Homo sapiens: one gene and its partner. The protein of the gene in region 1 purifies or fractionates together with the protein of each later gene. This does not show direct contact. Each region holds a gene or a part of one and is shown on either strand. Other genes may lie near its edges.

Region 1 (3,850 bases):
CCGGGAAGAGTGGGGACTGCTCTCCAGGAGGGGCCACAGCCCTTGCCAAGGCTTGATCTGAGGGCCTTTCTAGCGCCTGCAGACCCCCCAAGCAAGCTCCTGTCCATGCCCGCTAATCCCAGAATTGATGGTTCGTGGAGTCTTCCCCTCCTGTGTCACTCCTTCCACAGCCCACCAAGTTCATGGTGGGGACCGAGCAGGGCATCGTCATCTCCTGCAACCGCAAGGCCAAGACGTCAGCTGAAAAGATTGTGTGCACCTTCCCGGGCCATCATGGCCCCATCTACGCCCTCCAGAGAAACCCCTTCTACCCGAAGAACTTCCTGACGGTTGGCGACTGGACAGCCCGCATTTGGTCTGAAGACAGCCGGGAATCGTCCATCATGTGGACCAAGTAAGAGGCGATGCTGGGGACAGGAGGGGATGCAGGAGACAGGAGGGGATGGAGGGAGCCCAGCTGGGCCCCGGAGAGTCCCGAGCCTCCATATGTAAAATGGAGAAAAACCTTTCCACAAACACCCGAGCTCGTGTTAGCAAGTGACTTGCTCCAGCCACTCCACAAAGTGATAAGCTTCAAACACTCAGTTACTAAAAATAATGGCCATGGCTTAATTTTATTTCCTTTTTTTTTTTTTTTTTTTTTTGAGACAGTCTCGCTTAGTTCCCCAGACTGAGTGCAGTGGCGTGATCTCGGCTCACTGCAGCCTCCACCTCCCAGGTTCAAGAGACTCTCCTGCCTCAGCCTCCTGAGTAGCTGGGACTACAAGCACCTGCCACCATGCCCAACTAATTTTTGTATTTTTAGTAGAGATGGGATTTTGCCACGTTGGCCAGGCTGGTCTTGAACTCCTGACCTCAGGTGATCTGCCCACCTCGGCCTCCCAAAGCGTTGGGATTACAGGTGTGAGCCACCGCGTCTGGCTGGCTTAATTTTCATAATCCTCAAACTATCCCCAGGAGGAGGCAGCATTGCTCTTCTCTTCATCTCATTTTTCATGTTAGGGAACTGGGCTACAGAAAGGCCAAGCCACTTGCTCCTGCTCTCCCAGCTAGTGAGGAGCCGAGATTGGGTGTGAACCAAGGAAGCTTGGCTGGGAAATGCGGGTGCCTTGGCACAATTCAGCAGTGAGGCATAGCCTGTCTTGCTCAGTGCCACTCCTCTGAGGAGAGCAACAGACAGGGAGCTTGAGACAGAGCTATGAGCACAATGGTTAGACCAGAGAAGCTTAGACTATCACATCCCCCTCCATTCTTCTTAGGGCCCATTTACCTTGTCTAAAAGTGCCCTTTCTCCTCCTCCCCTTCATCTCCTAAATTAGGTAATAAGCCCGAATTCTAACCACCCCCTTGAGTCATTCACCACCGAGCACTGCCATGTGTATTGTGCATTGCATGTATAAATAATTACTTTTTTCTCTTGCTAAAAAAAACATCCTGGGGTTCCTTTCCTGCCCACAGAACCACAGACTCCTGCAACGTCAAAGCCACCAGCAACCCTAATGAGCATCTTTGGTTCCAGTGCTTCCCAAATCTGGTTGCATCAGAATATCTTGGGAGGAGTTTTTGTTTGTTTGTTAAAATGCTTTTGAGATGGAGTCTTACTCTGTCACCCAGGCTGAAGTGCAATGGCGAGATCTCGGCTCACTGCAACCTCCACCTCCCGAGTTCATGCGATTCTCCTGCCTTATCCTCCTGAGTAGCTGGGATTACAGGCGCACGCCAGCACACCCAGCTAATTTTTGTATTTTTAGTATAGACAGAGTTTCCCCATGTTGGCCAGGCTGGTCTCAAACTCCTGACCTCAGGTGATTCGCCTGCCTCAGCCTCCCGAAGGGCTGGGATTACAGGCATGAGCCACCGTGCCTGGTGGAGGAGTGATTTTTTTAAAATCCAGATTCTCAGCCCCAACCCTGGGGGTACTAACATAGAATCTTGGGCTTAGCCCAGGAATGGGTTTGCTAAGGAGCAACCCCAGGCTTGTGACTCAGCCAGTCCTTGCTTTGGGAGCAGAAACCTGGTTCGATGTCCTCATTCTACAGGGGTGGGAACGCTGGCTGACAAGGGCAGTGCATTGTTCCAGGCCTCATAGCAAGTAGGGGGTTCCCAGTAGATGTGAAGCCCTTTACAGGCTTTAGGAGCCTTCCCAATGTCTTCAGGTCCTGCAGGCTGCCAGGGCTGTGTGAAAGGAGCAGGGTGTCGAGCACAGCACCCATAGGCCTTTCGCAGGGCTGGTTCCTAGAGGGACTTGGTGGACCTGTGTCGTAGAACCTGGGTCTCCCTTGTCCTCCTCCTGCATAAGGTTAAACAAATTTAGCAAATAAGAATATTTGACCCTGGGCCAGGTGCAGTGGGCTAATGCCTGTAATCCCAGCACTTTGGGAGGCTGAGGCGGGAGGATCACTTGAGGTCAGGAGTTCAAGACGAGCCTGGCCAATATGGTGAATCCCCATCTCTAATAAAAATACAAAAAATCAGCTGGGCTTGGTGGCTAACGCCTGTAATCCCAGCACTTTGGGAGGCCGAGGCGGGTGGATCACCTGAGATCAGGAGTTCAAGACCAGCCGAGATTGCGCCACTGCACTCCAGCCTGGGCGACAGAGTGAGACTCCGTCTCAAAAAAAAATAATATTTGGCACTTAGTTAAATCTGAATTTTAAAAAAAAAAACTATTTTTTTTTTAGTATAAGTATGTCCCATGCAATATTTGGTATATACTTATACTAAAAATTATTCATTGTCCAAAAATCTCCAGATGTTTCTTTTTTTGGGGGGATGAAGTCTCTTTGTTGCCCAGGCTGGAGTGCAGTGGCACGATCTTGGCTCACTACAACCTTCACCTCCTGGGTTCAAGCAATTCTTCTGCCTCAGCCTCCTGAGTAGCTGGGATTACAGGCGCCCACCAACACCCCTGGATAATTTTTTTATTTTTAGTAGAGGCAGGGTTCTGCCATGTTGGCCAGGCTGATCTCAAACTCCTGACCTCAGGTGATCCACCATTCTCGGCCTCCCAAAGTCCTGGGATGACAGGCATGAGCCACCGCGCCCGGCCCAGATCCTTTCTTTAGTCTTGATCATTTCTCCCACTGTGGTCTGGCTGTCAACACACTAGGTTTGCAAAGGTGACTGGGAAGTGTAGTCTGCCTTGCTCACCAGGGGCCCAGCTACAACTATATTGCAATGGAGGAAGGGAGAGGAGGTCTGGGTGAAAATCTGAAGGCTGCACTGTGTGTGTGTCCCTTTTAAAAAAATGTTCCGTCTTCACTGAAGAAACTCTTGAAAACCCAGATGAAACCAAGTAGGAAGTGACACTCTCCTTATCTCAGCGGTAGCAGCTTTTCTGGGCATGTCCTTCCTCTGACTCCCATCCGTGAGTCCCAGGGCTGGGACCAGGTCCAGCAACACGTGCCTGCTGCCTGGAGTTAGCAGCAGAGAAATGCCAGTGGCCAGCCCACGGGAAGGACTGTGCCCAGAGCCCTTTCTTTATTTTATTTGAGACAGGGTCTCACTACGTTGCCCAGGCTGGAGTACAGTGGCACAAACATGGCTCACTGCAGCCTCGACCTCCTGGGCTCAAGCGATCCTCCCATCTCAGCCTCCCGAGGAGCTGGGACCACAGGTGCTCACCACCACACCCGGCTAATTTTTTTATTTTTTGTAGAAACAGGGTCTTTCCATGTTGTCCAGGCTGGTCTCAAAATCCTGGCTTCAAGCGATCTTCCTGCCTTGGCCTCCCAAAGTGCTGGGATTACAGGCACATGACCAGCCCAGAGCCCTTTAAAGAACAGCCTGTCAGACACCTGAGGTCAAGAGTTTGAGAGCAGCCTGGCCAACATGGTGAAACCCCATCTCT
Region 2 (3,500 bases), on another chromosome or scaffold:
CCGGCTGCCCCTACTGGGAAGTGAGGAGCCCCTCTGCCCGGCCACGACCCTGTCTGGGAGGTCTACCCAACAGCTCATTGAGAACGGGCCATGATGACAATGGCGGTTTTGTGGAATAGAAAGGCGGGAAAGGTGGGGAAAAGATTGAGAAATCGGATGGTTGCCGTGTCTGTGTAGAGAGAAGTAGACATGGGAGACTTTTCATTTTGTTCTGTACTAAGAAAAATTCTTCTGCCTTGGGATCCTGTTGATCTGTGACCTTACCCCCAACCCTGTGCTCTCTGAAACATGTGCTGTGTCCACTCAGGGTTAAATGGATTAAGGGCGGTGCAAGATGTGCTTTGTTAAACAGATGCTTGAAGGCAGCATGCTCGTTAAGAGTCATCACCACTCCCTAATCTTAAGTACCCAGGGACACAAACACTGCGGAAGGCAGCAGGGTCCTCTGCCCAGGAAAACCAGAGACCTTTGTTCATTTGTTTATCTGCTGACCTTCCCTCCACTATTGTCCTATGACCCTGCCAAATCCCCCTCTGCGAGAAACACCCAAGAATGATCAATAAAAATAAAAATAAAAAAAAAAAATGTACATGTTATTCATTAGTATGTGCTCCAGTGTTTGAATTCAATATATTTTGTTTCAATTCCAAAGTGTCAATCATGTATATTGAAAGAAAAATAATCAAAAAATACAGTCACGTACCATTTAATGTTTCAGCCAACAATGGACCACATATATGACAGTGGTCCCATAAGATTATAATATCATATTTTTACTGTACCTTTTCTATGTTTAGCTATGCTTATTATACAAATACTTACCACTGTATTATAACTGTATTCAGTACAGTAACATGTTATACAGCTTTGTGGCCTAGAAGCAATAGGCTATACCATACAGCCTAAGTGTATAGTAGGCCGTACCACCCAGGTTTGTAAAGTACACTCCATGAAGTCTGCATAGTAATGAGACTGCCTAATAACGCATTTGTCTCAGAACGTATCCCCATCTTTTTTTTTTTTTTTTTTTTTGAGACGGAATCTTGCTCTGTTGCCAGGCTGGAGTGCAGTGGTGTGATCTGGGCTCACTGCAACCTCCACCTCTCAGGTTCAAGTGATACTCCTGACTCAGCCTCCCGAGTAGCTGGGACTACAGGCACGCGCCACCATGCCCAGCTCATTTTTTGTATTTTTAGCAAAGACAGGGTTTCACCATGTTGGTCAGGATGGTCTCGAATTCCAGACCTCGTGATCTGCCCACCTTGGCCTCCCAAAGTGCTGGGATTACAGGCGTAAGCCACCGCGCCCAGCCCATATCCCCATCATTAAGCAGCATATTATTGCATTTTAAAAGATGGCTGAGTGGCTGGGCATGGTGGCTCACGTCTGTAATCCCAGCACTTTGGGAGGCTGAGGTGGGAGGATCACCTGAAGTCAGGAGTTTGAGACCAGCCTGACCAACATGGTGAAACCCCGTCTCTACTAAAAATACAAAAATTAGCTGGGCATGGTGGCGGGTGCCTGTAACCCCAGCTACTTGGGAGGCTGAGGCAGGAGAATTGCTGGAACCCGGGAGGCAGAGGCTGCAGTGAGCCAAGATCGCGCCAGTGCACTCCAGCCTGGGCGACAGTATGAAACTCTGTCTCGAAAAAAAAAAAAGCAAAAGCCTGAGTAAGATAACTTAGAAAAGGATATACCCTATTAAGAAATTATTAGAACTGTAACAGAAGATTTCTTTAGGGCTGGTCAAGTGTTCTTTTTCACATTCTTAAATCCATCTACATCTAAGATACTTAGACTCATGGATACTTATTCTACCCACTATCTCTAGATGATTCAACTGAAATTATCAGCTAGAAAATTTTCTCTGATATGTAAAGCTCATGTTCTATTACAAAAAATAAAAAATAAAAAAGAGTATGAAATCTTTCCTCCCTCCTCTTTCATCCTTCCAGGTTTTCCCTAAAAGTCCATAACTGGCTATGTTCTGAATCCTCAAAAGAACTGGATCTAAAGATGGACTAGTTGACTGTGACTCTCAAGGACATTTTTATTCAACTCACCATTCTTAAAATGCAGTACAATAGGGCCAGGCGCTATGGCTCACGCCTGTAATCCCAGCACTTTGGGAGGCTGAGGTGGGTGGATGACCTGAGGTTGATAGAGTTTGACACCAGCCTGGCCAACATGGTGAAACCACACCTCTACTAAAAATACAAAAATTAGCTGGGCTTGGTGGCATGCGCCTATAATCCCAGCTACTCAGGAGGCTGAGGCATGAGAATCACGAGCCCAGGAGGCAGAGGTTGCAGTGAGCCAAGATGATGCCACTGCACTTTAGCTTGGGCTACAGAGTGAGACTCTGTCACACAAAAATAAATAAATAAAATTTAAAAATAAAAATAAATAAATAAGGCCAGGCGTGGTGAGACCAGCCTGGCCAACATGGTGAAACCCCATCTCTACTAAAAATTAGCCAGGCACAGTGGCGGGCACCTGTAATCCCAGCTAACAGAAAGGCTGAGACAGGAGAATCACTTGAACCCCAGGGGTGGAGGCTGCAGTGAGCCAAGACTGTGCCACTGCACTCCAGCCTGGGCGACTCTGTCTCAAAGATAAATAAATAAATAAATATAATTTGAAAAATTAGCTAGGCTTAGCCAGGCACGGTGGCTCACAGCCTGTAATCCCAGCACTTTGGGAGGCTGAGGCAGGTGGATCATGAGGTCAGGAGTTCAAGACCAGCCTGGCCAATATGGTGAAATCCCGTCACTATTAAAAATATAAAAATTAGCCGGGCGCGGTGGTGGGCATCTGTAATCCCATCTACTCAGGAGGCTGAGGCAGGAGAATCGCTTGAACCCGGGATCAGAGGCTGCAGTGAGCTGAGATTGCACAACTGTACTCTAGCCTGGGTGACACAGCAAGACTCCATCTCAAAAAGAAAAACACTTTGGGAGGCTGAGGCAGGAGATTGCTTGAGCCCAGGAGTTTGAGGCAAGCCTGGGCAACATGAGACCCCATCTCTACGAAAAATAAATAATAATAATTTTGATTAAGAACTTTATTTTTAGGTATGTGGGCCAACACTATAAATTAGCATCCCTTGGCTGGGCGCAGTGGCTCACACCTGTAATCCCAGTACTTTGGAAGGCCGAGGTTGTCAGATCACCTGAGCTCAGGAGTTCGAGATCAGTCTGGCCAACATGGTGAAACCCTGTCTCTACTAAAAACACAAAAATCAGCCAGGCGTGGTGGCGCATGCCTGTAATCCCAGCTACTAGGGAAGCTGAGGCAGGAGAATCACTTGAACCTGGGAGGTGGAGGTTGCAGTGAACTGAGATTGCGCCAATGCACTGCAGCCTGGGCGACAGAGCAAGACTCTGTCTCAAAAACATAAATAAATAAATAAATAAATAAATAAAATTAGCATCCCTTATTTTAAAATAGTCCCTCTCAGGCCAGGCGTGGTGGCTTACACCTATTATCCCAGCACTTTG

What was found. The genes of interacting proteins can lie anywhere in the genome.
Region 2: the proteins of DNAI2 (region 1) and CCT3 purify together in Homo sapiens (affinity purification with mass spectrometry; 2 studies listed by BioGRID and IntAct, with this or other methods). This does not show direct contact.

What each region holds. Positions count from the first base shown.
Region 1 is NC_000017.11:74,305,049-74,308,898, forward strand, and holds part of DNAI2 (dynein axonemal intermediate chain 2), read left to right. Parts: intron 1-170; coding exon 171-394; intron 395-3,850. UniProt on the Homo sapiens protein: Part of the dynein complex of respiratory cilia.
Region 2 is NC_000001.11:156,328,293-156,331,792, forward strand, and holds part of CCT3 (T-complex protein 1 subunit gamma), read right to left. Parts: intron 1-3,500. UniProt on the Homo sapiens protein: Component of the chaperonin-containing T-complex (TRiC), a molecular chaperone complex that assists the folding of actin, tubulin and other proteins upon ATP hydrolysis.